Homo sapiens: one gene and its partners. The protein of the gene in region 1 interacts with the protein of each later gene in a pairwise test. Each region holds a gene or a part of one and is shown on either strand. Other genes may lie near its edges.

What was found.
Region 2: the proteins of PNLIPRP1 (region 1) and SLC7A1 interact in binary tests that used the Homo sapiens proteins (3 or more experiments, as listed by UniProt).
Region 3: the proteins of PNLIPRP1 (region 1) and AQP2 interact in binary tests that used the Homo sapiens proteins (3 or more experiments, as listed by UniProt).
Region 4: the proteins of PNLIPRP1 (region 1) and SLC18A1 interact in binary tests that used the Homo sapiens proteins (3 or more experiments, as listed by UniProt).

What each region holds. Positions count from the first base shown.
Region 1 is NC_000010.11:116,593,183-116,601,402, forward strand, and holds part of PNLIPRP1 (inactive pancreatic lipase-related protein 1 precursor), read left to right. Parts: intron 1-1,547; coding exon 1,548-1,682; intron 1,683-3,031; coding exon 3,032-3,140; intron 3,141-4,645; coding exon 4,646-4,765; intron 4,766-4,856; coding exon of another isoform or gene 4,857-4,864; coding exon 4,865-4,984; intron 4,985-6,864; coding exon 6,865-6,983; intron 6,984-7,889; coding exon 7,890-8,019; intron 8,020-8,220. UniProt on the Homo sapiens protein: May function as inhibitor of dietary triglyceride digestion. Lacks detectable lipase activity towards triglycerides, diglycerides, phosphatidylcholine, galactolipids or cholesterol esters (in vitro).
Region 2 is NC_000013.11:29,529,049-29,537,268, forward strand, and holds part of SLC7A1 (high affinity cationic amino acid transporter 1), read right to left. Parts: intron 7,155-8,220; 5' UTR 7,141-7,154; coding exon 6,771-7,140; intron 3,935-6,770; coding exon 3,776-3,934; intron 1,665-3,775; coding exon 1,490-1,664; intron 1-1,489. UniProt on the Homo sapiens protein: High-affinity, low capacity permease involved in the transport of the cationic amino acids (arginine, lysine and ornithine) in non-hepatic tissues.
Region 3 is NC_000012.12:49,953,427-49,960,288, reverse strand, and holds the end of AQP2 (aquaporin-2), read right to left. Parts: intron 6,156-6,862; exon of another isoform or gene 6,135-6,155; coding exon 5,970-6,134; exon of another isoform or gene 5,941-5,969; intron 5,660-5,940; coding exon 5,579-5,659; intron 4,891-5,578; coding exon 4,681-4,890; 3' UTR 1,411-4,680; downstream 1-1,410. UniProt on the Homo sapiens protein: Forms a water-specific channel that provides the plasma membranes of renal collecting duct with high permeability to water, thereby permitting water to move in the direction of an osmotic gradient. Plays an essential role in renal water homeostasis.
Region 4 is NC_000008.11:20,173,137-20,181,356, reverse strand, and holds part of SLC18A1 (chromaffin granule amine transporter), read left to right. Parts: intron 1-269; 5' UTR 270-392; coding exon 393-516; intron 517-1,872; coding exon 1,873-2,236; intron 2,237-2,863; coding exon 2,864-2,922; intron 2,923-6,912; coding exon 6,913-6,996; intron 6,997-8,220.

The DNA of each region.
Region 1 (8,220 bases):
AGAAAACTAAGATTAAGTTACTACAATGACAGAATAGAAAGTGTCACCTACATGTAATATAGGTCAGAAGGAGAGCAACAGAAGAATACACACATGTGCACACACACACATACATACATGGACATGTGTGCAACTTGTGCATACACACACAAACACACACACATGTGCGTGCAATATACCACAATATACCATCATCCTTTCTATTTATGTGGAGACTAGTTCAATCGATTTTTCTGTCACCTAAGAATTTACCTACCCCAGGAGCCTGCCTTCCACACATACATTAATAACACCAACCAGTAATGTCAAAAGGAAAAATTACAAACCCAGAAAATTAAAGTCATTCTGCACTTGCCCTTGGTTTAACAGGCATTTCACTCTTGGCACCTTTCCTGTCCTATCATTAATAAGCATCTTATTGATACAGTTTATACTCCAAATTCTCCAGGCTTGTGAAAGTTTCCTCAGGATTGCTTGAAAATGAAAGTCCTGGCCAGGTGCGCAGTGGCTCATGCCTGTAATCCCAGCACTTTGAGAGGCCGAGGCGGGTGGATCACCCGAGGTCAGGAGTTCAAGACCAGCGTAGCCAACATGGTGAAACCCTGTCTCTACTAAAAGTACAAAAATTAGCCAGGTGTGGTCGCAGGCGCCTGTAGTCCTAGCTACTCAGGAGGCTGAGGCAGGAGAATTGCTTAAATTCGGAGGCAGAGGTTGCAGTGAGCTGAGATCGCGCCACTGCACTCCAGCCTGGGCGACAGAATGAGGCTGTCTCAAAAAAAAAAAAAAAAAAAGAAAGAAAAAAAGAAAAGAAAAGAAAAGTCCTGAGGAGAAAACTCCCACTATCTCTGTGCATGTGATCACACATATTAGTATACTATATGTGGAATGATTCCAAGTGCATTTTAAATTTATAGTACCATTTTAAATTCAAGCTGGTAATATGTACTGCCTGGCAGAACTCCTAAAGATATATCAGCTCCTTTGACATCCAGGAAGACATTTTCCTTCCAGAATTCTTCAATCTCTTTTAAATCAGTACAGTTCTATTTTTCAAATATCTACATGTGTCTACTCCATGAAGTACTGTGTCATCGTGACTATAAAAATAGTGAAACTTCTCTCTCACTTTCCAGCAGCCTGGGGCATCGCCAAGAGCCTGAAAGGACCCCTTACAGTCAAATCCACAAGGTCATTTAGACACTGGCCACCGGAGATTGCACCTAAGACTTTTCCTTTTCAAAACAGGACTCTTTTCATGATGCAATTGTTTTTCCCTTACTAACCAACCTTACTGAATTTGGTTGAAGGAAACCAGAGAGTAGCCAGCTTCCAATTAATCTGCAAGCTGGAGGGGGAATCAGTTTGCCTTTCTCATAGCATTCACCCTGAAGGATAACTCCTAATTACCAACAGGATTCCCTAACAGAGTCTAGTTTATCTCATGCCCTAGCTAGGAGAAGAGAGAAGTGGCCATTTCTGAGCCCTGGCTGGATAAGGTTTCCCCTGCTCCCATTATCTCCCCAACCCCACTATCTCCCCAACACCAGAAACTGTTCGAGGTGGAGGAGGTGAACTGCATCTGCGTGGACTGGAAGAAGGGCTCCCAAGCCACCTACACACAGGCTGCCAACAACGTGCGAGTGGTGGGCGCCCAGGTGGCCCAGATGCTCGACATCCTCTTGGTGAGTCAGCTGGCTGGCCTATGTGAGGAGGGAAGCAGTGCCTGCTGGTCTCTGTTTGGTAGAGATGCAGCTGAGAGTTATGGATTAAAGAAGGACAAAGAATTGATATCCAGACCTTACTTCTAAAACTCTGAAATTTGCCTTCATAATGACACGCCAGTGGAAGCAAAAATAAGAATCGCTAACACTTAGAAAGTGGTTTTTTAAAAATCATCTTCAATTTACAGATAAAGAAACTGAGGCCCAGAAAGTTTAACTAGTTTGCTCCCAAAGTCATAAAGCAAATGAATAGAAGACCTGCCTTTTGATCCAGACCATCTAGCTTCAGAATTCACCCACAACACCAGGTGGGCTCTGTTTCGCGTGAAACACAGCATGGCCAGAGAGAGCCACAGAGAGCCAACGGACAGTACGTGCAATTGGCATGTACCAGCTCTACTGGCCTGGTGGTATGGGTCCTATTGATGTTGGGGAATTCCTTCTGCCACAATCATTTCACTTATTTCTTCCTATACTGTTTCATTATAGCTAACTCCTTCAGTCTTTAATTCTTTAAGTTGCTAATCCTTTGTGACTATTTTCTATACCAGGTAATGACTACAGCCATTTCTGTCTTATAGTTAAAGGGTCTACAAAAGAATCAACTTCTGCACTCCTGCAGAAATCAAAACCCATGGTATTTGTGCAAGAAGTATGATAGACCAATAAATGAAGTGCCTTTGGGTGAACGTCTCTGAGATCAACATGTGCAAATACCTCATAGCTCTATTTGATTTGCTTGTTCACCAGTACTTTTGGAGCAGAATGTCAGGAGTATGTGAGGAAGTAAAGAAGACACATGAGATCCCAGACCATCAAGGAGCTTGCAGTGAAAACTTGCAATGCCAGTAGAGTGCGATCTATTAGTGGGTTCTGATGGGGAGAGTAGGAGCTTTACAGGAACACATAGAAGGCAGCTAATCCACACTGATGGGGTGGGGAAAGGGCTTAAGGAGGTCTCCCAAGGAAGAGACGTCTAAATTGACAGCTGAAGGCTAGTCTGTTGATGTTAGCTGGCAAGTGCTTGGGGGATAGACAACAACAAGAAGAGAAGAACAAACCAGGCCCAGAGGTGAGAGGCTATGATGTATTCGAGGGTCTGAAAGTTCAACAAAGGGTTTGGCTGAAGAGTCTAGAAAAATAGATGATGAGTTAGGAAAGCTCGGAGGCCTTCAGAATGAGTTTGGGCTTGATCCTGAAGGCAATGAGAGGCATGGAAGGTTTTCAGCAGAGGAGTAATATCCATTAGGCTGGCATTTTAGAAAAACCACAGCAAAAAATGTCCTGAAAATACAATCTTCCCTCTCCAGACAGAGTATAGCTACCCCCCTTCCAAAGTTCACCTCATTGGCCACAGCCTGGGAGCCCACGTGGCTGGAGAGGCAGGAAGCAAGACTCCAGGCCTGAGCAGGATTACAGGTAAGGCCCCAGAGGCAGGGCCCCAGTTTTGTCCCCAGAAACCCCAGAATGAGGTCTCAAGAATGCAGCCCAGTTCAGAGCTCCCCTGAAGGAGACTGTCCCCCTTGGCTGTGATAGAGCTGCTTGGAGCCTGCACAGAACATTTTAGGGAGCCCCCAAGAAGCTCATGCGCCACCTTCACGGCAAGGGAAGGGTGATTTTGTTCCTCTTTGCTTCTTCCACCTCTGTCCTAGCCCCTCCTTTCTAAGTCCTGGTTTTCTGGTGGTGTTCGCCTCTCAACAGGACTGGGCACCCAGGAAAATGCAGAGTGAGACTAGTATGAACATGAGCAAAACATAATCAAGGAGGGTCTATATTGCCAATTCTTTCTCCCTTCTCTTTGAAATCAAGGGCAGAATAGAACCTAAAAATTGTTTCCCACTGCTTCTACTAGTAGAAGAAACCCAGTCGCCATTATGGCCAAAAGCATTCTTTTAACCCAATCAAAGCATTTGAATTATAACAGCAACAGCAAGATATATCTACATAATATGATGGTGATAATAATAATAATAATGCTATTATAATTATTATGATAAGCATAGATTAAGTGCCTGCTTATCCCAAATACTGCACAAAATGCTTTATATTTTCTTATATAATTCTCAGAACTGAAGAAAAAGGCTCAGGGATGCAAATAACTTGCCCAAAGCCACACAACTCATCAGTGGGAGAACTGAGATCCAGACCTGGTTTTGCCGATGTTTGGCTTAAGCAACTCTTTATAAGAAATCTCTCTTTTATTTTCAGCTGGCAACTACATTCACGTTCCTATTTTATCAGCTGCTGTAATGAAGCCTTCAAAAACTATTAACAAATCCAAGATCCCTACTAAGAAGGAAATTTGTCAAAAACAATAATTATTAATATCTTACTTATACACCCATGACTATACACCAGGCATTGTGCTAAGTGCTACCTATTAACTCATTTAATCTATAACAACCATATCAAATAGATGCCATTATCACCCCATTTTGTAAAATGAAGAACCTGAAGCACAAAAAGGTAGAGTGACATGCTCAAGGTCATGCATCTTGCCCCAAAAGCAGCTGAGTAGGAATTTGGAGCCAGGCAACCTAGACCCAGAACCTGTGTTCTTAACTATGATACCACATTGCTTCACCCCTTTCTTTCTACAAGCTTGGGGAGAGAAAGGATGATGAAGAAGAAAGATACACAAGTAAATGGGAGACTCTGGTGTGGAAAAAATCCTTGCTTAAACAAAATCTAAATTTCTTTGCTCATTTGTCCTCCTCCATCCACGCCACTGGGAACCCTTTTGCAATGAGCCACATTCAGACTCTATGTCCTCATATTTAGCACCCAAGGCCATGGCACTGCATCACTCTGGTGCATGGTACCCATTGAGTTGGGCAGTGCATAGCCCGGGCAGCTGTACACCTTGGTGCTGCTGACATCTACAGTCAGGTCTATTGTTCTGCAGTGCTGATCATCTCTTTTAGGGTTGGATCCTGTAGAAGCAAGTTTCGAGAGTACTCCTGAAGAGGTGCGACTTGATCCCTCTGATGCTGACTTTGTTGATGTGATTCACACGGATGCAGCTCCCCTGATCCCATTCTTGGGTGAGACCTATGATGCTCCAGCTGTGAGCACGCACAACTGTGTTTTAACCATGAAAGTCCTGCATGACAAAAAGCTCATTGTTTTTCTAAGCATTTCAGGTTTTGGAACGAACCAACAGATGGGTCATCTTGACTTCTTCCCCAATGGAGGAGAGAGCATGCCGGGATGCAAGAAGAATGCCCTGTCTCAGATCGTGGATCTAGATGGCATCTGGGCGGGTAAAGTCATGGTGGGGTGAGGGGAGCAGGGCGGGTACTTTCCTGGAGTGACCAATACCTTTCTGCAGCAAATCTTAAGAATAAAAATGAAACTGTCTTTAAAAATATACAATTCCCTCTTCTGGGGATTATTTCAGAAAAAATGTAGCTACATAGTATTTGTTATATCTCAGCTTTACTGCTTTTGTGCTTCCTTAAAACATTGCTGTGGATGTCCTGGCATGTACAAGCAACAAAGAATTATAAAACTGTCACTTAAAGCTGTGACTCCAGCAATCAGTTGGTAGTTACCTAATACAGAAAGGAAATACCATAAGAGCAAACATCCTGACTGTAACTAAGAGACTTTTGCTACAAATTCTCTCTTGGGAGTCAGTGATAAGGTTCAAAATGATGTAATCAGCTCCCTTTCAGTAGCTAGAATGAGAATATTCCCAGTGGTTTCCACAGCAAGCCTATTTGCACAATGAGAGCCATTGCTCACCCATGTTGAGTAGGAATGAGGAGCAATCACAGTTAAGGAAGGTGAGATGGGAGACTGCTATTGGATGTGGTTATTCTTTATTGTTGATCTAGCACACTTGGGAAGAAAGGGCATCCTGCAGACACAGCTCTGACTCTGTATCTAATGAGGCCAAAAGGACAATGGACAGGTGAAGTTTTCATCCAGACTTGTCATGTGGCACCACACGGAGAAAACCCTTAGTAGTCTGACCAAATGTAATGAGTAAAGATTTTTACTGAATTTCATCAAAATGGCTTGGCATATATGGATGCCATCAAAGCAAATATTAAGAATGAGGACAGGCCAGCTGTGGTGGCTCACGCCTATAATCCCAGCACTTTGGGAGGCCGAGGCGGGCAAATCACTTGAGGTCAGGAGTTTGAGACCAGCTTGGCCAACATGGTAAAACCCCGTCTCTACTAAAAATACAAAAAGTAGCCAGTCGTGGTGGTGCGTGGCTGCAATTCCAGCTGCTCGAGAGGCTGAGTCAGGAGAATCGCTTGAACCCAGGAGGCAAAGGTTGCAGTGAGCCGAGACCATGCCATTGCACCACAGCCTGGGCAACAAGAGCGAAACTCCATCTCGAAAATAAAATAAAATAAAATAAAATAAAATAAAATAAAATAAAAAATAAAGAATGAGGACATATGCAGTTTGTCTTTCACAGCCTCATGAGGGTTTGCGTGCATAGGGCAGTCAAAACTCTTCATCAGTAATGGCCCAGCAAGCTCAGGCCAGGTCTAGAAGGTATAATGTAACATTTGTCACTTGGCAGGAGTTGCAGGGAGCCCAGAAAGGTTGCAAGTAAAATCAAGACACTATGAGAGTGAAGCTCATACAAAACCACCTAAAGTTATCCAGCCCTTGTTTTTATTTGTATAACTGCCGCATGGAAATGTCCTCGCATTGGCTTGGTCATGTCACATCTGGTCATGTCTTTGAGGACCTCCAGCATGGTGCCTGGGACATGAGATGGCACTAAGGTTAGAGGGATGGGCCGAAGACAAGATGGGCATGGGTTTAATTACCAGCTTTCCCACCTATTAGCTAAGCTGTAAATCTGAGGCTACACTCTGTAGTCCTTTCTGTAACATAGGAATGAGATGATAATGCATAAATAAGGATGATATGGTACCCACCTCCTAGGAAGACTGAGGATTACATGGACAAGGCAGGTAAAGTGATCAGAATGTTGCCTTGTACACAGAAAGCACCCTCTATATGTTAATTGTCATTATGGTGGCTGAATTTTGGATTTATCTTAAGTTTCTGAAAATACGGTCCTACTTTGGAACCATCCCATTTGGAGAGAGAGGCAGAGAAGCTGTTACAGGCCCCCAACCACCTGTTCAGGTCTCCTTATTTGTTTTCCCAGGAACCCGGGACTTTGTGGCTTGCAATCACCTAAGAAGCTACAAGTATTACTTGGAAAGCATCCTCAATCCCGATGGGTTTGCTGCATATCCCTGCACTTCCTACAAGTCCTTTGAGTCTGTAAGCTATTGTCCTGCCTCGAGCAACAAGCATCACCCCTCTGAGGGACTGCTGTCCTGCTGCGTTTGGGATTTGCAATGCCTTCTCACTACACGTTTTGCATTGACCCTCAGAGTTCATGGTCCTGTGGAGTGGAAGAGAAAAAAAAGTAAACAACTTTTGGCAGGAGATGGCTAAAATTTTAGATGACATGAGTTATGTGGCAGAGGAAAACTGGGAAATCAGAGAGAAAGAGCAGTCAATTCAATGATATAGAGGCTTCCTGCAGGAGGCAACCTCTGAATCTAGCTTAAAAATGATACAGTTTAGAAAACACAGGAATGCACATTTCTGGCAAGGGCAGAGCGAGAGTAGAAGAATGTATAGAGAATAATTCACACCAGAGAGAAAGCAAGGTGGATGCTGGAGTCCTATATGCCAGGCTGGCAACAAGGGGAGAGATGAAGAATGACAGGTTAGAGCCTGCCTATTCTGGCTCACGAAAGCCAGCATGAGTATCCCTTCCCAACTCCAAATTCAGAGACATCATGTTGGTAGCCTGAAACTGGCCACAGTCAGAGTATTTACACCACTGAAAATGGTAAGCACTGCAATCCAGGGTTTTTGTCCCAGAGCTTTTGCTGCTTATCATTCACCAGCTCCACTCAACAGAAGGTATAATTGATCTAACCTGGGTCCTGGGCATCAGTATTTTTTAAAGCTCCTCAAATAATTCTAATGTGTTGTGCCTAAAAGTTGGGAACCCTGATCCAGATGAAGGTAATTTAGAGATCATCTGCTCCAACCCCTTTGTTGTCACAAAGGAGAACGCTTAGGCTGTAGGAAAATTGAGTGTCTGCCCTCTCAGATGTATCGATCATACAAACACAAATTCTCCTTACAGTCCCATCTATCTCTTCTCATTAGGACAAGTGCTTCCCGTGTCCAGATCAAGGATGCCCACAGATGGGTCACTATGCTGATAAATTTGCTGGCAGGACAAGTGAAGAGCAGCAGAAATTCTTCTTGAACACAGGAGAGGCTAGCAATTTCGCTCGTAAGTTGCACTTTGACTACCTGCCCATGTAAAGAAAGTATATAGTTTCTGTTACAAATGAGGGGCTTGCTTTCAACCTGAAATATTTGTGGGTACATTTTAATTATCTTAGAAATGGACACATTTACCGAAACTATTGCAGTTACAAGTAAACTGAGGATTTAGACAGAGTGTGCATTTCTTCCGTTCTATTTCTGCGGC
Region 2 (8,220 bases), on another chromosome or scaffold:
ACTTCAACACATATTTGGAATTGGCTTCACTCCACCCTAGATTAATGGACACCCATAAATTTGGCATAAATATGACTCTGAAATGCTCGGGATGACATATTCAAAGGCCTCAGTTCTCCATAACAGAGTTTAGGAAAGCAGTTTTATTAGAACTGCTAACCACAAAATATTAGTGTTAGTGAAGTTTCGTGCACCGAATGCCATAGTTTCCTGTTTCCATTCAAGTAGTCACACATCAATGCCTGCCCACTGGTAACAATACTGGGCGACATGGCTGGCACCTGGCCCTGAACCAGTGACCAACTGGGCATACGTGACTGCTAAGATTCCCAATGTGAGATAGTGCTTCTCAGCCTCCCTTGCAGCTCTATGTGGCCCCCAGTGGACTCTTGCCAATGGAATGTCTGTGTGTCTTCTGGTCTGTCCTGAACAGACCTGAGCACTCTCCTCTACGCTCTCTTTTCCCTTCTGGAAGAGCTGGGTCATGCTCGTGCCTACAGCCAGCTCTGACCAGGCAGATGAGGACAATGTCCTGGGGGAAGATGGAGCAAGACAGAAGATGTCTAGGTCCACAGAGGCCTGTGGCAAAGCTGGCCAGCCAACGCGGACTGCTCACTTCAGGACTGGAAACATCTCTTCTTTAAAGCCACACTCCATTGTGGCAGTTGGAGGGGGTCTCTTTATCATAGCAGTTTCAACCTTCAGTCTTAATGAAGAATCACACACAAAATCCAAGTCCCCATTGTCCATCCTGAGACCTAAAGAATTACATGGAGATCTGACAACAAAGATAAAAAAGATATGACTGTTTGGCTTTTTTTTCCTAGGTTATCTGAGCTTTCAATGAGGGCTGGGCGAGAGACCTGAGATGGCACAGGGTGGAGCTGTCACCTCCAGTTCCGGATGTCTGTGTCAGAGACATGAGGGTGATGGGGCCACTGTCGCCAGGGCTTGAGCAGCACAAGTCAAATGTCGGCGAAAGACTATTGTGCTCACATTCTGACACTTCAGTCATTCTGAAAACCTTCAAAAATAGTTTCACCTATTTCTCTTCCCTCTACATTATTAATCTAATAGGAAGGTATTTAAAGGTGAAGTGAGGTCACCACGGCACTGCAGAGAAAAATCTTTTCTGAACACAAAATTCCAAAGTTGGCCATCAAACAGAATCTGGGGAAAGAGGGATCATTTAATGAGTCTGACAAGAATCCTGAATGATACACAATTTGGAATTAGGGTGATGATTTTCTTTTCCTCAGTCTTTCTTGTCATACAATAGTCTTTCCATTTCAGGGGAATAAACCTTCACACAAACTTGATACATACAAAATACCCTCAGCTACTTCACTGCAAAAACACAAAACAATTAACAAAATATCCTCAAATAATGTTTTCTTAAAAGCACATGCCATCCTAGCCAGTTATATCCCCCATACAATCTATGTCATTAAATGTCAACTAAGAAAAATGGTCAGAAGCAGCAACTCACTTGTTCAAACAGAGACGGCCTGATGTGTTCCCAAAATCCTCCTCCGTGAGCTGCCAGTTTTTAACCGATCCTTTCACAAATCCTGACACCATTATGAAGCCCAGGACCAGGACGTTAATACAAGTGAATATTTTGTTGACCATGGCCGACTCTTTCACACCAAGAGTTAAAAGTCCTGAAAAAGTGCATAGACACAAAACTTTGTCTGAGTGTTAACCACAAACTGGGAAGGTCCTTCCTGGATGGGGATAAGAAGGCGACTGAAAAAGAATCCAAGTGCATCGAGCCTCTGCAGACCTCTGTGAGCCTCTGGGAATGGGGTGGATTAATTATCTTTCTGGGGGCGGGGATCAGGGGTTTAAATCACCAAGGTTGTGGGTGCTTCCCAGGCCCTCCTAGGTGACCTCCAGATACCCTTGGGAACTGAGAAGCCCACCCAAGGGGCACCCGAGAACTGCAGAGATCTGGAGCATGAGCCCCTCTCATAGGGAGGGGAAAGCCTGGACCCGCACACCAAGCCGCTCCCTCTCACTAAAAGGATGCGTTGCTGGGAAACAACCTCTAGGAACAATTCCAGGAAGAAAGACTTTGCATAGTTTCCTGGGAGAATGGACATTTTTCAGAAGAGGAAATTATTCTGGTTGACTTTGGGATGTTAGTGATATTAACAATAACAACTAGCTATGGTTCTGGAACCACTAACACACATGGTTCTTCGTTGGACTCAGTGCATATAAAATAACATCTGAGCTAGGCTAGCTCTAGCTTGCAAACTCACGTTTTTTTTTTAAAGAAAACTATAAGTAATAAAGATGCCCAGGAACCTCTGACAGCACTGCCTTTGAGGCACATGCCCCAGCACCACCTTAGGGTGAAGAGGTCATTCGGGTACTTCCATAGCTGAACTCTCTGCTGGGCAAGAAAAGTGGCACAGAAGGGGTTGGTACCACTCGAACACAGCCAGGATTTGAGACCACTGCTCTGCCATGGACGCCTCTCATCGTTTTAAAATAAAAATTGGCTAGGTGCGGTCGCTCACGCCTGTAATCCCAATACTTTGGGAAGCAGGCAGATCTTTTGAGGTCAGGAGTTCCAGACCAGCCTGGCCAATATGGCAAAACCTTACCTCTACTAAAAATATAAAAGATTAACTGGGTGTGGTGGTGCGTGTCTGTAATCGCAGCTACTGGGGAGGCTGAGGTGTGAGAATCGCTTGAACCCAGGAGGCAGAGGTTGCAGTGAGCCAAGATCGCGCAACTGCACTCCAGCCTGGGTGACAGAACAAGACTCTGTCTCAAATATAAAATAAAATAAAATAAAATAAAAACTGCTGTACTTTTGAGATTGAATTATAAAGTACAGATGTTAGAAGAGAATTGTGTAATTAATCACAGGGAGAACACCTCAACAAACAACAATATATTGTTTCTTTAGTGTCCCTCCCTCTCAGGTTTATTAAAATGAAATCTCACTAGTGCAGACTTACTTTCTGATGCATGTTTCTGCCAGCTGGACCAGAAATACTGCTGAGACCAGCCTGAGTGAAGTTATTTCAATTATGTGGTGTGTAAAATAAGGCATGTCATTTTTAAAACTCATCCAAGATTTTCTAACCCCAAATGAGAATTTATCTGCATTTCAGCTTCATGTTTATGGAGCCCCACAGAGCAAAACTCGCGCTGCACTGGCCAAGACACGCACAAATGTCACTAGCAAGAAGTTGCCATCAGCTGTGTTCAGGCAGTCTCTGGGATTTTTCAAATTCTGTAACCACAACTCTGTCATGAAACTTATTTACTGAAAGGGTGTTTTGATGGTTGTTAGGTGTAAAAACCATCCAAGTCATCTTCAGACGCCCCAGGCACACATTAGTGTTCCAGACGGAGCTCATTCCTCCACATTTTCCTGGCTGATGAATGACAGTTTTGCTTTCCAAATGGTCATCCACTGAGTCAAAAGAACTTTTATTCCCAGGACACTCACACAAAAAGCCTGCAGTGCAGACAAAATCTTATTCCACAAACAGCTAGGCTAAACACCTAAGATTCTCTTTTAATGAAATGGCACACAATTCAACAGCTATGAAGCAGGCCGGCCCTATCTGAATCTATAAGAAGCAATGAAGACAGGAACAAATAAAGATGCCTGCATGCAGTACAAAAACAAAACAAAAAGAAATGGGGGTTATGGTTAAAGAGATAAGTAAAGAAAGGAACTTAACAGGAGCCTCTCACCAAACCTTTGCCCATCACTCTGACCCGATCTCTTTTTAAGTGTGGGCTTTACCTGTCAAGATGAGAATTATGATCACTGCGAATATGTCGGGGTTTTCAGCCAGCACGCCGGGGGCGTTCAGAGTCATGTGTGTCCGTGAGAACTCCCCGATGGGTCTGCCTATCAGCTCGTCGAAGGTGGCGCTCCAGGCCCTCGCTACGCTTGAAGTACCTGCCACAAAGCACACACAACAGAGGAGATGTGAGGACAACTGTTAGCCAGGTATTTGTAGTGGAGCTCCATGTTGATAACATCATTGCAGGAGTCACCGACGGTGCACTGGAATCTGGCAGCAGCAGCCAGACCACAGTGTATGCTGAGCCAGAAGTGACGGTCGACTAGTGCTAAGTGCGAGAAGGCTTCTAGGGCCTACAGAGGAATGCACTTCACATCCTACCCAATATACACAGGTGTATTCTATCAAATATATATATCCGAATAAAAAGTTCGCAAAACGAGTGTTACCCTTACCACCTGAGAGGCACTCTGATAATATTTAATGCTACCTACTTTGTTTCATTAAAAAAAGTAAACATTGATGACAACTCATGAAAAATTGATTTCATAATGCACTCCTGGGGTGCAGCTGGCAGTCTGGAGGAATGCTGCTTAGGAAGCCTCTTTTCTAGGAACCCCTTGGCTGCAGAGATGATGGTGCCTGCACCATAATTCTTCTCTCAGCAAGAAGAGGGGCCCTAGGAAGTCCTTGAAGGGGCTGAACTCCATCTCAGGGACAAAGCCACTTGCTCATCTCAGTGTTGGCATCAGCCACCTCTGCCACTTTTTGCCTGAACCTGATTCGGAGGCCACAGCATCCCCAGAGTGCAGGACAGCAGACAGACCCCAGCCCTCCTCGTTCTCCCCTCAGCCTGCACCCTCCGGTGCCGAAGAACACCAACAGGGCAGCACTCAAAATGCCAACAATAGTTGGCTGCTGTCTTTCACTCTCATTCTCTCCTCTCACATAATTCTAAAGGGTGTCAGAATGTGTTTCCATTGGTGTTTCTCAGGAAATGTCACTAAAATTCCAGCATTTTCATAGAGCGTTTTCCTTTATTTTCAAAGCGGGCCTTGTCGGTGACCATGGTCCTAATTATCCACAGCATATTGCCACAGTGATCTGCAGAGATTCAATTTCACTATTTGGTCTTATGATAAGTAAGTATCTTTCCAACAACTCAGAAGTTTAACCACATTTCTTCCTCCTAAGCAGCCAATCTATTATGAATTCTGTAAAAATGGTCTCACCATCTCCCTGTCACCCCCAAAGCAGCTGGCTTATGGCAAACGTGGCTCCCAAACCCTGTCCTGCTCAGTGACAGGGGCTACCCCAGCCTTTCTTCCCAGCCTATCCACTCCCAATTTCTGAATTATGCCTTTTAAAAAAATGTTTGCTGGAAAAACTGCCCTTCCCAGCAGCTAAGGCTGAGAACACATTTTTATAATGCATGCAAATGGTTTCACACAAGCAAACGGCACTCTCGCAGAGCCTTACATTTGTTGGTCTAGAAGCTGCAAGCATTTCATGCTCAATGTATATTTTATGCTCAGGTAAATCCTCTGGAAACATAACGGTCCATTTACAATAGCTACATTCCCAGTGAGAGACTTCAGCTTGTGAGAACCATGTGTGGTTGTTAAGTTTTGATGTGGCATTGAAAGAAAACATTGTGAATTTTATTTTAGAACCCAGAAGACTAAGCTATGTTGGCTCTCAGCAGATACTGCAGCTGCTGGAAAGAAAGAGAAGGTGCTGCTCGGAGAATGTGAGTGTGTGCCCTCCCCCAGCTGTCCTGGTGAAGGGGGAGTGATGCCCCCCATGCAGAGATAGGGCTGTGGGGAGCCCAGGGCTGCGAGGATCCCAGCAGGCAGCATGTGTGGCCAGGGAGGGTGTGGTGGGGTCCAGTGGGAGCTGACACAGAAGCAAGGCGGAACCCACATGGCTCAACTTAACAGGTCTTACTGTTTTTTCGCTATTACCAAAAAGTTTGAGAAAAAAAAAAATAAATGGCATGTTGAGTGGCCGTTTGTACCCTTTGCTTCTGAGACTTAGGTTTTTGTTTCTTTTAAGTTGATGTGTTCAACTTCAGTTGTAATCAAAATACAAAAAAGCATAAAGAGAAGCAAAGCGTGTTTACCTGGCAAACCGGAAAGATTTTCTACATTTGCTTCCTTATTTGCTGGGTGGATGTGTTACAGGCCGATGCCCAGTGCCCACACTGCAGGGAAAGGGGCCCCTGGCTACGTGGAGGATCACAGTCAACAAAGGCCTTAAAAACACGCAGACCCACTGACAGCCATTCTGCTCCTTAGACAGTTTTAAGGAAAAGAATCATGGCTAAGCCCAAAGACATAAAGTAATTAACTGTTAATAACAACAGCAACAACATAATGGAAACAATCTGAACATCCCATAAAGACACCAATACATTACGCTGTGTATATAAATCTATACAATGGTAGGCAAGCATTAGAAATGTTACTGTGGAAAAATAGCTAATGATATGAGAAATGTTTACTATATATTGTTTTATAAAGAGATACACTGTAGAAAAATACACATTTAAATTCACAAAAATGTTAACCATAGTTGTATCTGTAGACAGTAAACTTCTGAACACAGAGTGTCTTATGCCTTCATGGGATCCCTAGTATCTAGCACAATGCCCAGCCCAGAGCAGGTACTCAATGAACATTTATTAAAAGAATGAATGAATGAATGAGAGAATTAGTTTCTCCATGTTGTCAGGCAGGGTATTTCTACTTTCTTCTTCATGCTTTTCTTTATTTTCCCAATTTTTCTCTATCAGTGATGCATTTACTCTAGTAATTTAAAAACCTACTAAAAGAAACTAAATACCTCTAAATGAATCAGAAACATCCTATTAATTCTGTGCCTCTCGTGTTAACAAGAATGACCTCCCTGTGGGGCATCCACCCACACTTTGGAGGTGGGAACAAACAGAAAAGTGGTAGAGGGCACGAGCTCCGGACCCCTGGGACCTACCGATGATGTAGGAGAGGATTAAGTTCCAGCCGGTGATGAAGGCCCAGAGCTCTCCAACGGTGACATAGCTGTAGAGGTAAGCTGAGCCCGTCTTGGGGACCCGAGCACCAAACTCGCCATAGCACAGGCCAGCCAGCACTGAGGCCAGCGCAGCGATCAGGAAGGAGATGACAATGGCAGGGCCTGCATTCTCACGGGCCACAGCTCCAGCCAGGACGTAGACACCAGCACCCAGTGTGCTGCCCACCCCGAGGGCCACCAGATCAAAAGTGTTCAGGCAGCGAGACAGCCGCGTCTCCTCCCGGCTACAGTCCACCACCTTCCGCCGCAGCATCTGCTGCCCAATGTTGAGCAGGACTTTGCACCCCATGTTGCTGTTCAGAGCTGTTGAAAAAGAACAAAGATGTTTCCTGATTGCTCCTCATTTCACCCATTACTCTAATCTTATCACATTATGGAAACACAGACAGTGATCAGGTCCTTCATAATCATTTCCTGCTAAAACGCTTTAATTCGTAGAATTCCACCATCAATTGTCAGAAGCACGCAGACTTCTCCAGTTTCACCAGCACATACAGAATTAACCCAGCAGGCCAACAGATACAGATGACTTCATTTCGAGGTCTCTGAGCTTCCACATTTGTAGCAGGTCCTCTTAATGGAGACTCTTCCATGGGTGGAAATTATGCAGTAGAGGAAACACACATTAATGACATTGTTCCTACACTCAGTCATCAGATAATACACCAGGAAAAACAAGGTGTTAGTTCAAGTATGCTGTAATAGAAAGCAAACCAAACCATATCTTAATTTCATTACTAAATTAAATTATTAAATTATTAAAACTCAGAGGCCCTGAATGGCAATAACAATGTTTTTCTAGATCTTTCTAGGATCCCCTGAGGGTAAGGAGCAAGTTGTTTTCACTTTTAAGGTAACACAGAGGTAGGTCGAAGCAGAAAAATGTTGAGTTATTACAAGTGAGGGCTTTTCGTCACTGTTACTACTACAGGAAGCACTTTTCTTCTGGGCTGAAATGTCAGCCCAATGTGCTCTGTGGTATATGATATATATGCATATCTGATATGCTCTTGGGCACTTATCATGAGAGGACATGTATTCATCCATCCCACCCTCACATGGGACATGCCCCATTAGGGCCCAGGACACCTTGTGCCTTGTGGGATGGCTCTGAGATTGCTTTCCTCCAACCTACGGGCCCACCTTGCCCGACCAGATGCGACAGGTGAGCCCTTGGCAAGGACAGGCCAGCAGCCACCCTCAAAAAGGGGGAGCTTTGCTCCCCACATCTGAAGGGAAGAGACTTCCTTCCATAGAGTCCAGGATGGAAGGGTGGGGGTGGGAAAACAGATAAACTCTTCAGTGGAGAAACCCGAGGACCACCGCCTGCGGCAGGTGACCGAGGCCAATAACAGTGACAGTCATGTTG
Region 3 (6,862 bases), on another chromosome or scaffold:
AGGACCCACCCCCAGGATCCCGGGAGAGGAGCTGCATTAAAGACTCCCATCCCCATGTGTGTTAGAGAAGCCCTTAGCACAGTGCCTGGCACAGAGTAAGGCTCAGTAAAGTCTCCTTACGTTGTGACTGTTAATTTTAAAAGCCCCTTGAGGGTTTAGTGTGGTGCTAAGCTAGGGGGAAGAGTCCAGCGGGAGGGTGCAGAGGAAGTAGAGAACAGGTGCCTCCTCTGTCAGTTTGTCAGGCAGGGCTGAGGGGAGGAGCCTGCAGGAATGCTAAGGACTTGGAGGAGCGGGCTCTGGGCTCTGTGGCAGCTAAGATGCCAAAGAAAACAAGGGCTAAAGAAACCCCGCTATTGTTCCTGCCCAGCTCTGGCATTTCCTGCTGGAGCAGCTCCTCCCCCAGGTCTCTCCTCTTAAGGCCGGAGGTCAGTCTGTCCTTTCTTCCATGGGTCCCAGCGCTTTGTCCCCAGCCAATCATGCCAGCTGTACATGCCAGTTGTACGCAGGATTTTCTTCTGGGCCTGGGACTTGGGCTGGACAATGACCCTGATGACCCCAGAGGCCATTGGGGGCCAGGCTCCTTTGCTGCTGAACTTGCCTCCAGTTCGCACCCTTTCACTTGCTTTCTCATCCTCTCTCCCCAGGCACTGTCTTCATAGTCCACAGGTCTCAAACTCCAGCATCTCAGAATGAAAGGATTCACAAGTGCTCACAAGAGGCTTGGCTGCCAGGGGAAGCTCCGACCTGAAGATTTGAACTAATGAGGGACTATAAAGGCCAAGACCTTGTTCTTGCCATTTTAGAGATTCAGAATATAATCTACAAAGTTAGAGATTATAATTGGCCTCCACTGTGTGATTTGATTCCAAGCTACCCATGAAGAAACCCAGACTCAGAGGTCACTTGCCTAGGGTCACACAGTGACCTGAGATGGGAACCACAGGTCGCCACATAGACTTGGTCATCAGGAGTGGGCCTGGTGAGGCCAAAGAAGGAGATTTCATCTGTCAAGGTTACTCACACAGGGCAGCTGATTCTGTTTCCTAGGGCCTGTGTCTTAGGCTCTTCCATCTCTCTAACCACTAGAGTCCCTCTGTCCTCAAGTCATCACAGTAAACTCCCATTATGTCTCGGAATTCTCTTTGCCCAAGCACTCAGGCCCTGCCCTGGCAGCTCCAGAGGAATGCCCGGGACCTTTGTGAGCTGAGTGATGGGTCTCCCCATTTGTGGCAGGGGGAATTTGAATGTCTTAGGGAGAGCCCTTCCCCTCCTCTCCTGATATGGGGACTTCTGAGTTCCCTGGGAGAAGTTGAGGGCTGGGGTAGAAGTGGTAGGGAGCTCCGCCTGTCTTCTGGTACCTTGGGCTGTATTTCTATTACCACTGCCAAGTTGTGGAAGAAACAGTACTTATTGGCAAATGAGCATTTATTGAGTGCTTATTATATGCAGAGCAGTTGAAGGAAGGTAGATAGGAGAACGCCATCCAAGAACTGGAAGCAGCCCTTGTCCCCAAAGGGCTTACAGTCTAGCTGGGAGGCATTGTATATATACAACATCACAGCTTAAAGATACAAAACGACATTGAAGCACCATTTGCAGGTGCAAAGTCATTTGGCACAAAGTGGGAGTATGGGACAGCTCAGAACCTTCTCTGTCCCCAGCTTAGGGACCTGGAGGTCTGTCTACCTGTCTCCATGCTGCCCTGCCTCTGTCTGGTTTGGTGTGTGTGATCTCTGTTCTCTGACTGACCGGGTGCTCTTAAAGGGCAGAAACCAGCCCCACATTCTTTGTCCTCTCTACCCTGCTGCCCTCGCCAAGGCTCTCCGTCCACTGCAAGACAGTGGGTTGGGCTGGAAAGGCCCAGCCATGTGTTCTGGCTTCTGCCAGGGCCTCCCAGGAGCCTAGGATTTGTCTCAGTGGAAAAATCATGGGATTTTGTGTAAAAAGGTCTGAGTTCAAGTGTTGGCTCCACCATATACTACCTGTGAGACTTTAGACCAGTCCCTTAGCCTTGGTTTCTGAATCTGTAAAATGGGAAGAACAATATTTGCTCTACCTTTGTCACGGGGTTGGGAGATAATCACAGGGGACGATAAGGGGAAGCTTTGGAAATAGCAAAACCCTTCATGGCTGGGGGCCTTTGTCCTTCCCTAACCTATCTGAAGTTTGAGGAAGATCAGATAAGTCCGTGCATGCAAGGCACCCAGCACAGCAGCTGGTACACAAGAGATGCCAGGAACTGCCAATTTCCCTCCACCCCTGGAGTTCCATCACTTGGAATCCTTTTTTGACCTCTGACTCCAATCTGGGCAATAGAGGCTAGAAATGGTAGGGATTTCACATTTAGTTTTTGGGGAGATGCAATCCAAAAAGTGAAACAGACATAGAGAGAAATTCTTGGCTTCTTCTAGAGGAGTTTGTTGGGGTGAGGTGGGGTGGGGATGAGGTGCCTGAGACACATCCATGCTGGGCTCATAGCTCACTGCCTTGCTGCCTTTGAACCTCTAGAGCAAGGACACTCAGGTGCCAGGAGGACAGCTCTGGAGGTCACTTTGGTTTCTGACTCCACCCTTCTTCTGGTAGTGAGGCCAAGTGGCTGTCACTAGCTATTGGGGGTTTGGGAGAGTCCTCTCCATAGCACATATGGCCCAGGGCAGCCTTTTTTGGACCTCAAAGAGAGCTTTGGTCAAGGAAGACAGGAAAGAGCATAGATGAGAGGGGACACAATTACAGAGATGTTCCTTATACACTGTCTTTCTTGGATGGGAGCAGAAGGGAGAAAGAGGCTAGAGACTTAGTGCCTGGTGCACAGTGGGTGCTTGGTGCAGTGTGAGATAGATACAGACAGAAGTCTTGAAGGCATGGAGGCCACAGAGAGCATGGGGGCGGAGGGGGGTTCAAGGTATGACCCACATGTTACTTATACAGCAGGCTGGAGAGGGAAGGAGAGAATGGATAGGGCTGGGTGGTAGGAGGAAGGAGGTGGGAGAAAAGATAGGGCACACATTCAGGGTAAGAAGAGGTTAAGAGGCTGGGCCAGGATGGGGCCAGCCCCAAACCCATCTCCTTCTGCCTGGATCTTGTGGGCTCCCAGGACTCTCCTTTGCTTTGGCCATCAACGAAAGGAGGTAAGGGATGTTGAGCATCAGACTCCTTCTGCATCCTTCCCCCAGGAAGCAGAAATAATGAAATGATTCTAGTAATGCGTGATAATGGTATTAAGAATTACAGTTTACACAGCATCTTTACATGCGTCATCTCACTTAATCCCAGTTAATCTCTTTTGAGAGCAGTAGTACTGGCCTAGAAATTTAGAAGCCTGGGTTCTAGACTCAGATCTGCCTCTGCCTGGAGAAGTCATTTCCCTTCTCTGGTCCTGAGAGCAGCAGGCTGCTCTATCCACAATGACTGTCCAGTGGTAGGAGCCAGAAGCAGGGGATCACGGGCTGTGGAGAGGCAGACAGAGAAGGAACAGAGATTCCTGGGGTGGAAAAGCTGCTGCCTGAGGACTGGGGAGAGTGAGATGGGTGATGGATGGGTATTGCCTGGTGCCCATGGTTGCATGCCTGAGCGCCTTGCCCAGCCAGCCATAGGTGTGTGCTGGGCAAGAGGGCTCACTTGTGAAACTGAGTGTCTCCTTTCAAGAAGTGTCTAGGTGCAAATCTCCCCTCACCCAAGACAAAGGCCCGGGTCCCACAAAGGGCTTTTGTTTTCTGCGCCGAAGTGGGAGGCTAATCTCTGGGTCTGGGGCACCCCTGGAGACGGGGGTCCCGGGCACACACAGCATACACACACGTGAAGGCGTGCGCACTCATATGCCTGCTTCCTCTTTGGAGAGGTTCTCCCTCACCACAGAAAGGAAATCTTTGGCCACCAAAGATTTCCTTTTTCCAGAGGCCATGTCTAGGGGAGCTGTTCTCTGGTTGACACCTCTCTACCTCCAGCAATGAGTCTTGGCAAGCCTTGGGGCCCAGCGCTGCAGGTGGGGGAAATTTTCCAGGAGGAGCCAGATTGCGGCTGGAAATCAAGGCCCTCCCTTCAGCCCTCTCAAAGTGGCCTCCTTCCCTTCCCCTTCTCCTGAGGAGGACTGGCACCCACACTCATCCACTGCAGGAGAAGCGGATTTATTGCAGGTTGGGGAGGAAGGGGTGCAAGGGGAAGTGAGAAGTCCCCAGCCATGCACACTTGCACCAACGTAGGCAAACCTGTTCACACTCAGGGGCATGCACAACTCTGCATGTGAGGACAAAAGAGAACTTGGGGATGAACACACTTGCACACTAGTAAAACCAGTTGCATCATTCCCGGAACCCCCAAGGCAGGGGTCTGTACACTCCCCACTCAGTACCTGGGTGCAGGCTCTCCAGAGTTTCCCTCTTACCACCCACCTGCCTCCCTCCCCAGCTCAGTCCCCTAAGTTCCCAGTTCCCTGAAAAAGGCTGGAGAAGCCACCACTAGCTGCTCACAGCCTCAGGGCAGGGGACCTGCCAGGCTCAGGGCTCCCTCCGGCAGCCTCCTCCCCGCCTGCTCACAGCACTGGCCTGGGCGCGCACGTCCAGGAAGCAGCTACTCTGCGCTGGGGGGCCAACTTCAGACCTGCGGGAGAGGAGGGACGGGGTGGGCCCTTCTGCCTCGGGCCTCACAAGCGTCCGTCGGGGCCGTAGAGGCCGCTGGCGGCCCTCAGGCCTTGGTACCCCGTGGCAGGCTCTGCGGCGAGTGCAGCTCCACCGACTGCCGCCGTCGCACCTCGCGCTCCTCCCAATCGGTGTCCGGCTCCAGGCCCTTCAGCACTGCCAGGCGCTCCGACAGGCTCTTGGCTGGCGGAAACAGCACGTAGTTGTAGAGGAGGGAGCCCAGGATGGCGCCCACCAGGGGTCCGATCCAGAAGACCTGGGGGCGAGCGGAGAGGGCGGCTTGGCACCCGCGCCGGCACCGGCACGCGGAGCCCGCAGGCCCCGGCGGCACACTCTGCGGCCGCACCTCTCCTCCCCGACATTAATCTAGTAAAATGCTTATTTATGTAATTACAACGACAACGCCAGCTGCTGGGGAAGCCTTGTCAGTGCGGGGTTAAGGGTGCGAATTCTGAAGCCACTGCCTGTGTGTGTCCTGATTCCACCACTTAAGTGCTGTGTGCACTTCAACAAGTTACTTACCCTCTCTGTGCCTTTCACTCTAAGAATGTCTACCTCCTGGGGTGGTTGTGAAAACTGAGTTAATGTTTGCAAAGCACTCAGAACAAGGCTCACCACATACTAAGCACCAGATAAGTGCTAAATACTACCACTTATAGAGTTCTAAGTGCCAGACACTGCATTATCTGGGTTACACCGGTAACCTCACTTACTGTTCCCAAGAAGCCAGTGAGGTAAGCTGTTGTCATCCTCATTCACAGACGTGGAAACTGAGTCTTTGGCATCAGATCTGAGGGGTGGAACCCAAGGCTCCCCAGGACCAGGAGGAGTGTGGAGGGTTTGGGGTACCGCTGCTGAGCCCCCATCCCATGCTATTCCAGCTCTTGTTCTCCCTCTAAAATGGGTTTCTAGAGAAGGGGAGGGCAGGGGGTTTCAGCCATTACCCAGTGGTCATCAAATTTGCCAGTGACGACAGCTGGAGCCAGGGAGCGGGCAGGATTCATAGAGCAGCCGGTGTAATGGATCTGCAGTGGGAGGAGGGCATCAAAGAGAGAAGGGAGGTGAGGACAGGGCAGGAAGTCCTTGTCCCGCACTGCAGTGCTTGACCTCAGCCTAAAGGGAACCCACGTGATGGACAATTAACATCACGTTTTATTTACAGATGGGCTGGAGTGATATCTGTCCCTCTGGGGTATCTAGGAGTCAAACCTCTGGGGTGTCTGTTCCTCTTGAGAGTTCTGTGTATGTGTCCCTCTTGGGGTCTCTGTGTCTGTCTCTGGAGTGGTCTGTGTGTCTGTTCCTCCAGGGAGGCTGGAACCCATGGCCATGACCTACCCCAAGGAGGTGGCCCAGGGCCACAGAGAAGCCTATGGAGAGAGCAGGGGTGCCCGGGTTCTCTCCGCGGCGCTCATCGGTGGAGGCGAAGATGCAGAGCACCAGCTGCAGTGTCAGGAAGAGCTCCACAGTCACCGCCTGGCCAGCCGTCGTGCTGTTGCTGAGCTGGGGACAGAGAAGAGGCGGGTAGGGGAACACTGAGCCCACTTTCCTCTCTGGCTCCATCTTCCTGTCCACCTGCAGTCGAGGCACCAGGGGGCCTCTGGGCTGGGAGCCGGAACACCTGGGCTTGCCAGACGCCTTAGCTGCAACGACTGATCCCTTCTTCCTGGGCCCTGGCCCAAAGGCAGCCCCTGATCCCCCAGGATGCCCATGGTCCCCCCGCCAGAGGTAGCAAAACTGACTCTGTAGCCCATTAGATTGGGGCCTGAGGCTGGGAGCCTGCAGTATGAGAGGAAAAGAATGCTGAGATCCGGAATTTCTGTTTCCCAAAGAACAAGAAGGGAAGAGGTTTCAACTGCCTCAGGAAGCTTTGGGCCGGTTAGCAGGAAGACCTTCCTCTGTCTGTAGACCATCAGACCTTGGTGCAATGAGAGGCCTGTGGTCTTTCTTCCTGAGGTTAAATGGCTCCCAGAGACAGGGTCTAGGGACTTGGGTCTGGGGGACAGTCCTAGTGTGCCCCTTTCCGCTATGAGTCCGGAATCTACCTCTTTCCCTAACCCTTGTCTATTCCCCACTGCCTTTCAGGCCTCAGGTTTGCCCTGTTAGTTTGCTCCCTGCACATCCTATGGAGGTTGGGGTAAGGGCCCTGGAGCTGTGTTGGACAATGCCTCCACACCCATGTAGGCTGCCCATGGTCTCAGCAGACCCTGCCTTGGGTAAGGAGAGAACTC
Region 4 (8,220 bases), on another chromosome or scaffold:
TGTCGGATGTTTGAAAAACACAGGGTTAAGTGATCTGTAGAGCATCTATTTTTATCTGGATTTATACCTAGCCATTAAATTCAAGGGAAATTAATGGCTAGATATAAATCCAGACATAAATAGCTAGTAAGCGATGCTTACCAGGAAGGCATTCTGGGAACCAGGTAGAGTTATTGAGATTTATAAGAAGTGAACAGTGATACAGACATGGAGATGTTTCCAAATATCATCCTACTACTTGCAACCCTTTGCACTTTTCGTTTTAATAGTGAGTTTCCTTCGTCTGGGCAGACTCCCTCCCCTCTTCCATAAAGGCTGCAGGAGACCTGTAGCTGTCACAGGACCTTCCCTAAGAGCCCGCAGGGGAAGACTGCCCCAGTCCGGCCATCACCATGCTCCGGACCATTCTGGATGCTCCCCAGCGGTTGCTGAAGGAGGGGAGAGCGTCCCGGCAGCTGGTGCTGGTGGTGGTATTCGTCGCTTTGCTCCTGGACAACATGCTGTTTACTGTGGTGGGTACGTTTGTGGGTCTTTGTGCTGAGGGTTAATTTGCTGTGGGCCCCAGCAGGCAGTGTACACCCTGCTTGAGTTCAACAGTGAATCCATCTGAGAATTTTCCTTTTTATGCTCAAAAACACACAGAGGTTGTTGGGGACTGGAAAAAAGCCCTGCAGAAAATGGAGTCTGACACTTGTCAAACACAGCTAAAAGACTCAGGAGGTTCAAAGAGCAGGAGGTCCAGAGAGGGTCTGACTGGAGAAGAGGATGGCCCGGAGCCAGAACTGGCTGTGCTTTTCTTTCTCCCCACACTGTCTTCTCAAGGTGCTAATGACTCCAAGTGCCTCTGAGGCAGCGAGATCTTCTCACAGGGGTGCCTTTCTGGACTCTGCTCTATAAAAACAGCATATTTTATTTGGATATCTGATTTAGTATCAAGACCTTGCCTTCCTTGTGGTTCTTTCCCTCAGAATCCTGCTTTTTTTAGTTGATACTCTCCTAATCATTACATTAAGTTACACCCTTGTATAAATGGGCACTAAAAGGTTTCTCCTCTTGGGTAAAACATATGTTTTTAAAAAAGGATCTTTCTGAGACAAGTTGTTAATCCAATACAATCACTTCTCATTATTCATAGTTCTGTAGTTATAGTTATGCTCTATAAAGTCGCTGCAAACACTGAATTAGTGAATACTGAATCATTGCTCCCAGGGAAACACACACACACACACACACACACACACACACACAATTATAATCTTAAATCTTAAACATCGTGGTACATCGTGTTTTCTTTATAAAAGAGAAAAAGAAGTTCAGAAGTGTTAAGTGACTTGCCCAAGGCCTCTCCACTAGCAGGTGCCAGAGTTGGGATTCAAACCCTGTCCAGGGGTCCCAGAGCTGAGGCTCCTCTGACCACCCTGCCCTTCCTCCTCCCATCCCCTCCTGTGGCCAGGTCTGTGTGAGAGCTGGACATGTCTGTGAAATGTCGTGGTAGCTCAGTGTGTGTTGGTTTGGGGGGTTACATGTCAATCTAAGTGAGTAGGAGAGTTAGCCAATGTGGAAACCATGAACAATGAGGACTAACTGTATAAGGTCAGAATTTAGCTACTTTAGCTAATAGGATAACTTGGGCAGGCACAGTCTTTTAGTAGGTTTTAACCATGCCACTCCAGATACCAGCCTTGGGCATAAGGCTGAACCTCATCATAGTCCCCTGATCCTAGTAGTGGTAAGATGACATCTGTCCTTAGCCCCCATCACCTGTCCTCCTTGACTTTCAGTAGAATTGACATCTGTCCTTAGCCCCTTGAGTTTCAGTGGTAAGATGACATCGGTCCTTAGCCCCCATCACCTGTCCTCTTTGACTTTCAGTGCCAATTGTGCCCACCTTCCTATATGACATGGAGTTCAAAGAAGTCAACTCTTCTCTGCACCTCGGCCATGCCGGAAGTTCCCCACATGCCCTCGCCTCTCCTGCCTTTTCCACCATCTTCTCCTTCTTCAACAACAACACCGTGGCTGTTGAAGAAAGCGTACCTAGTGGAATAGCATGGATGAATGACACTGCCAGCACCATCCCACCTCCAGCCACTGAAGCCATCTCAGCTCATAAAAACAACTGCTTGCAAGGCACAGGTTTCTTGGAGGAAGAGATTACCCGGGTCGGGGTTCTGTTTGCTTCAAAGGCTGTGATGCAACTTCTGGTCAACCCATTCGTGGGCCCTCTCACCAACAGGTATCTCACTGGGTGCAGTGCCCCGCAGGGTACACAGGAGTAGGAGGACTAGAAAAGTATAGAAAGGGGGTTGGAAGGGAAAAAGAAGAAATACTCACTTGTATGATTCCTCAGGGGAGTCAGCTATTCGGAAAGCTCGTTACTCAAAGAATAACATGTTACTGATGAAATGTTATGGGATCAGATTTTCTTAGTGATATATTGAGTATTGAGTACCAAGAAGAGAACCATGAACAGCAGTGTGCTGTGATGTTCTATCAGTGACCTGGAGCATGGCTTGAATGGGAAAAGGGTATGAATGGGACAGTCCTGTTGTAATCTAGAGCACTGGCTTCCCAGGAGTTGTATTGACGATTATTCTGATATTTTCAAGAGATATACACTCCACCTAGGCTATCATTTCTGGAAATGAGAATTTTGGCCCTGATCTATGGTCATATCTGCATGTTTGTTTGTTTGCTCATACTCATCCACATGCCCTATTTCATCTCCACACTACATTCAGAGGCATGTTTTACCATACACCCAAATAGCTGCATTTCTGCTCCCACTTACATTTAAAAATGTAGTCCATGTATGTGAGTGCCTGTTGGAATTGTATCTTTTTTTTTTTCAATTCCCTTTTAGGATTGGATATCATATCCCCATGTTTGCTGGCTTTGTTATCATGTTTCTCTCCACAGTTAGTAAGTAATTTGCTTCCTCTTTTCTTCCCTTCACTGATTACCTTTGATTTTATCAAGTGAATGCGGTGTAGATAGCAGGGTAACCTAGAATGTAATTAGGCATCTGACTAAGCAGACTGGAATATTGGTTTAAATGCTCTGCTGTTTTTGGTATGTGGACTAGAACAGTAGTGACAATTCAGTCTAGTTGGAATTGGTCTATTCTGCTATAGAAGAACAGATATTTTATTCACTTCACTTCAGCTGGACATAATGAGAGCTGTTTGAATATGTATGCTACGGGGTGTGTGTGTGTGTGTGTGTGTGTGTGTGTTATATGCATCAGTAATCCCTTGAGCAAGTTTAATACAAACTTTCCATCTATGAGAAGCAATGATATTATTTTGTTATGCCATGGAAAAGGGCAACTCACAAAAAAATGGAAATTGGACAATAACATCTGGAAAATTCCAAAAAGCCTACTGCTTTTCAGTTAAGGGCTTTAAAGGTTAAGCTTAGAAAAGTAAATTTGCTAAAGAAACAAGAAAGAGAAAGACAAATACTCTATCCAGGATCAGCTAAATGTTTCTAATAAAATGGAGATGGGATAAACACAGTACATGAGAAAAGTAAGTCTGGAAATTGATGCTGAGAAGTAAAGGAAGAAGGAATGAAAAGGGTTAGCGTTAGCAGGTTAAGGCAGGGGAAGGCAGCCTGTGGATCCAGCCTTGGTTCCCGATGGCCCTGCTGAACCTCTGCTCTCCAACAACACACCTCCTTCTCCCTCGCGTTTTTCTTTTCTTTTCTTTTCTTTTTAATTATACTTTAAGTTCTAGGGTACACGTGCACAACGTGCAGGTTTGTTACGTATGTATACATGTGCCATGTTGGAGTACTGCACCCATTAACTCATCATTTACATTAGGTATATCTCCTAATGCTATCCCTCCCCTCTCCCCCGACTCCATGACAGGCCCCGGTGTGTGAAGTTCCCCTTCCGGTGTCCATGTGTTCTCTGTTCAATTCCCACCTATGAGTGAGAACATGCCTCTCATTTTTCTTATTACCTTTCTGTTCCTTGTCTACTTTCTGTCTTCCTCTTCCTCAACTTTTCTTCTTTCCCAGCACAGAACTTGATTCCTAGCAACCCAATATTTAACAAGAATTTGTTGCATTCTGGGCTGGAAGGCTGCAAACTGCAAGAACTTGAGATGTGAGGTTGTCTCTGAGAACTACGTCTTGTTTGTGAAATTTTAGTGGACTTGAAGAAAATGAAGAAATTCAAATTAGCACTGTTCATGGAACTTCTAGCAGTTCAGCCTAAGTTAGACAGCAAATTTAAAAATAATAAGATGCCAGGTGCCCTATTTCATCAAATGAGGCTTAAGATTTATTCCAAACAACTTTATGCAGTGCATGTATAATGCCCAGATGGCCATAGTCACATAAAGAATGAAAAGACATGATTCCAGCTATCAGAAGTGTATATGATGGTTGCCTGGGGAGACATGAGACACACACTGAGAAGTAAGACAATGCGGTGTGCTAGTGGATCTGAGACGTTTTAGCATGATATCCTTGCCTGATTCTCTGCCAAGAATTCATGTGTTAAAAGCTTTACTTTTAAAGTAAACTGTATATGTTAAGTAATTATTGTTTAACTTATACCAAACTATATATGTTAAATAATTATTATTTCCATAGGATAGCTGTGTTGCTATATGGAGTTGGCCTAATTCTAACCAAAAGAAAATACATTTGATGTTTAGGGTATCCTTGTCCAATGTTCTAAAAAATACTTAAAAGAGATTGTTGATGCCCGTTACTACCCTTAAACCCTCCACCCCCCAACTAGGAGCCATGCCTAATGTAATCAAGAGTGAAATGGTGGCCCATGTAAAGGGTCCAAAGTGAAAAAAATAATTGCTTTGGTATTCCTAAATAGAATGACCAACTCTCCTGGTTTGCCTAGAATTGAGGGGTGTCTTAGTCCATTTAGCATTGCTATAAAGGAGTACCTGAGGCTGGGTCATTTATATTAGAAAGAGGTTTGTTGGCTCATGGTTCTGCAGGCTCTACAAGAAGCATGACACCAGCATCTGCTTCTGGTGCGGGCCTCAGGGAGCTTCCACTCATGGTGGAAGGTGAAGGGGAGCTGGCTGTGCAGAGATGAGAGAGGAAGAAAGAGAGAGGAGAGGGAGGTGCCAGCCTTTTTTTAACCAGCAGCTCTTGAGAGAACTGTAGAGTGAGAACTCACTCACCACCAAAGGAAGACATTAAAGTATTCATGAGGGATCCTTCCCCATAACCCAAACACCTTCCACTGGGCCCCATCTCCAACACCGGGGATCAAATTTCAACATGAGATTTGGTGGGGACAAACAACCCATGTCCACACTGTAGTGAGGGGCTTCCCAGGATGTAAGACTTCCTGTTTTTGTGGGGTATTTTGAGTTTCAGTTTTAAAAACAAGGAAGTTCTGGGCAGACCAAGATGAGTGGGTCACTCTATTCTCAAAGGACATTGGGAGAGTAGACAGAAAAGACTGGAAATAACAAAGTCTGAGAAAAGATGCTGGTGGCCAGGAAAGAAGAGACCAAGAATGTGCATCTTTGGGAGACAAGGAGAAGTTCGGTGTGATCATGTCTGCCGGGAAGTAATGGGAGAAGATTAAAAACACAACCAAAGACATCTGTAATGAATGGGCAAAGGGATTACAATTCTTCTGATTCAGACACTTCGAGGAGATTATTCTTACCCTAGGAGACATTTTTCTGGAATTGGAGGTGAGACATGTCTGGACTTAACTACCCTGACCACCAGCACCCTCTGATTTAGTTTTGTGTTGCGGGAAGTCAGGGACCCTGAATGGAAGGACCTGCTGAAGCCATGACAGAAGAACATAAATCATGAAGATTTCATGGACATTTATTAGTTCCCCAAATTAATACTTTTATAATTTCTCACACTTGTCTTTACTGCAATCTCTGAACATAAAATTGTGAAGATTTCATGGACATTTATCACTTCCCCAATTATCAATACTCTTATAATTTCCTATGCCTGTCTTTACTTTAATCTCTTAATCCCATGGTCTTCGTAAACTGAGGATGTATGTCGACTCAGGACCCTGTGAGGATTGCGTTAACTGCACAAATTGTTCATAAAGCGTGTGTGTTTGAACAATATGAGATCTCAGAACCTTGAAAAAAGAATAGGATAATGGAGATGTTCAGGGAGCAAGGGGAGATAACCATTAGGTCTGACTGTCTGGGAGCCTGGCAGGACAGAGCCATATTTCTCTTATTGTTTTGGATGACATATTCCTGTTGGATCTCAGTTTCCTGGGTGTCCATCTTCAACACACTGCCTCTCTTCACGGACAATAACTAGATGTTATTTTTATTTTGCATTTGCTACAGAGTCTAGCAGAGCTGCGCATTCAGTATAATTTAATACCTGCTGATTTTGTCTGGTTAAAAGATCGTTCAATATAAGATATAAAAAAGGATCTGATTGTATCACAAGATATTATTTTCTACCCAATTCCTATAATCCTCGAAGCACCTACTTACTGTCACTGTACTCCAGATGATCCTGTGGGACCCAGCAATGGTAAAGACCAGATCTGGATTTTGCACATGGACGATCCAGGAGTATGATCTAAGAACCAGTTTCCAGCCTAGGACACTGAGCTTCATGGACATCCCTCATTTCAGTGGACAGAATGTTGGGTTCTTGGCAAGAGATGTACAGACTCAGCCTTCCATCTGCTGTGTGGTGACTCGGTTTATACTTCTGTGGTTTCTCAGTTTTCTTGCCATTTAAATAGCAAAACTGAGGAGTGGGAGATTGAAAAGACAACTCAAAAAACAGGGAACAGTCATCATGCTTTATTAAAAACATATGCATCAAGACTCATATCTGCAGTATCACGGGCATGTTCTCTGGCGGCTGGGGAAGCAAAGGCAATTTGCTAACTGCAGTTATCTTGCTATTCTCTCTGCCCAGTGTTTGCTTTTTCTGGGACCTATACTCTACTCTTTGTGGCCCGAACCCTTCAAGGCATTGGATCTTCATTTTCATCTGTTGCAGGTAACACTGGCAACTCATCATGCACACACACATGCAGGCATGCACACACACACATCTCTTACTACCTCAGATCCTATATTTACATGGAGAAATTAAGGAAAATGTCACCTGGATAGGTAGAAATTGTGATTCAGAAATAAGGGAATTGGGCTGGGCACAGTGGCTCACACCTGTAACCCCTGCACTTTGGGAAGCCAAGGCAGGAGGATAGCTTGATTCTAGGAGTCTGAGACCAACCCGGGCAGCCTGGGCAACATAGTGAGAGCCCTATTTCTATTAAAAAAAAGAGAGAATAAGTTAGCCAGGCATGGTGGTGTGCACCTGTGGTCCCAGCTACTTGGGAGGCTAAAGTGGGAGGATGGCTTGAGCTTGGGTGGTCAAGGCTGCAGTGAGCCATGATTGTGCCTCTGCACTTCAGCCTGGGTGACAGAGCTAGACCCTAACTCAAAAAAAAAAAAAAAAAAAGAAAGGAATTACAGAGTTTCTAACAGGGTCCATAGATCTCTGAGCCTGACATAACTTCCTCTGCTAATATTCAGATGCAGCTAGCTCAGGTCAGAGCAAGCCTCCAGTGAAGCTATGAAGAAGGGCAGGCTTTCATTTAGTGCCACTCTATGGTCCTTTTTCTGTCCCCCTCTTAGTACTTTATAGGAATAATCATGTTAGTACTACTGGTAACACCAGCACAGTTTTCAAAGTACTGGTGAATATAATATCTAATGCAATCTTATGAAGTTGGCATTTTATGCCATTTTACCCATAGCTATGAAGGCCAGAGGGTCCAGCTGCCGTACAGCACTAGCCCACACTTTCTTCCAGGTCTGCAGTGCTTTCCTGCTCTTCCCTGGGCACCCCTGTTAAATAGAATGGTCTCTGTGTGCCTAGATTTTCCTTTCCCTGATCTGCTCTGTAACCCCTCATTTTGGGAAATGTGCTAGGAAATGATAAAATGTTATGAAACATGGTATAATCAGACAATGGATTTTCTGTGTTATCCTTCCAGAGGGCTTGCACTATCAACAATATTCTGAACAGGAGTGGACAATGTGGGGGCTTGGGGGACTAGGGAGGGTAGTACTTGAAAAATACTACGGGTTAAGTTTTGTAAAACCCCTCAAACTGAAACTCTAGCTAAGATTGTCACTGAAGAGATAACAGGGTGGGACCAAGGGCTCTGAGAGGCGGATAGAAGCCCCCCAGGGGGCCAGCTGCATCTGTAACTCT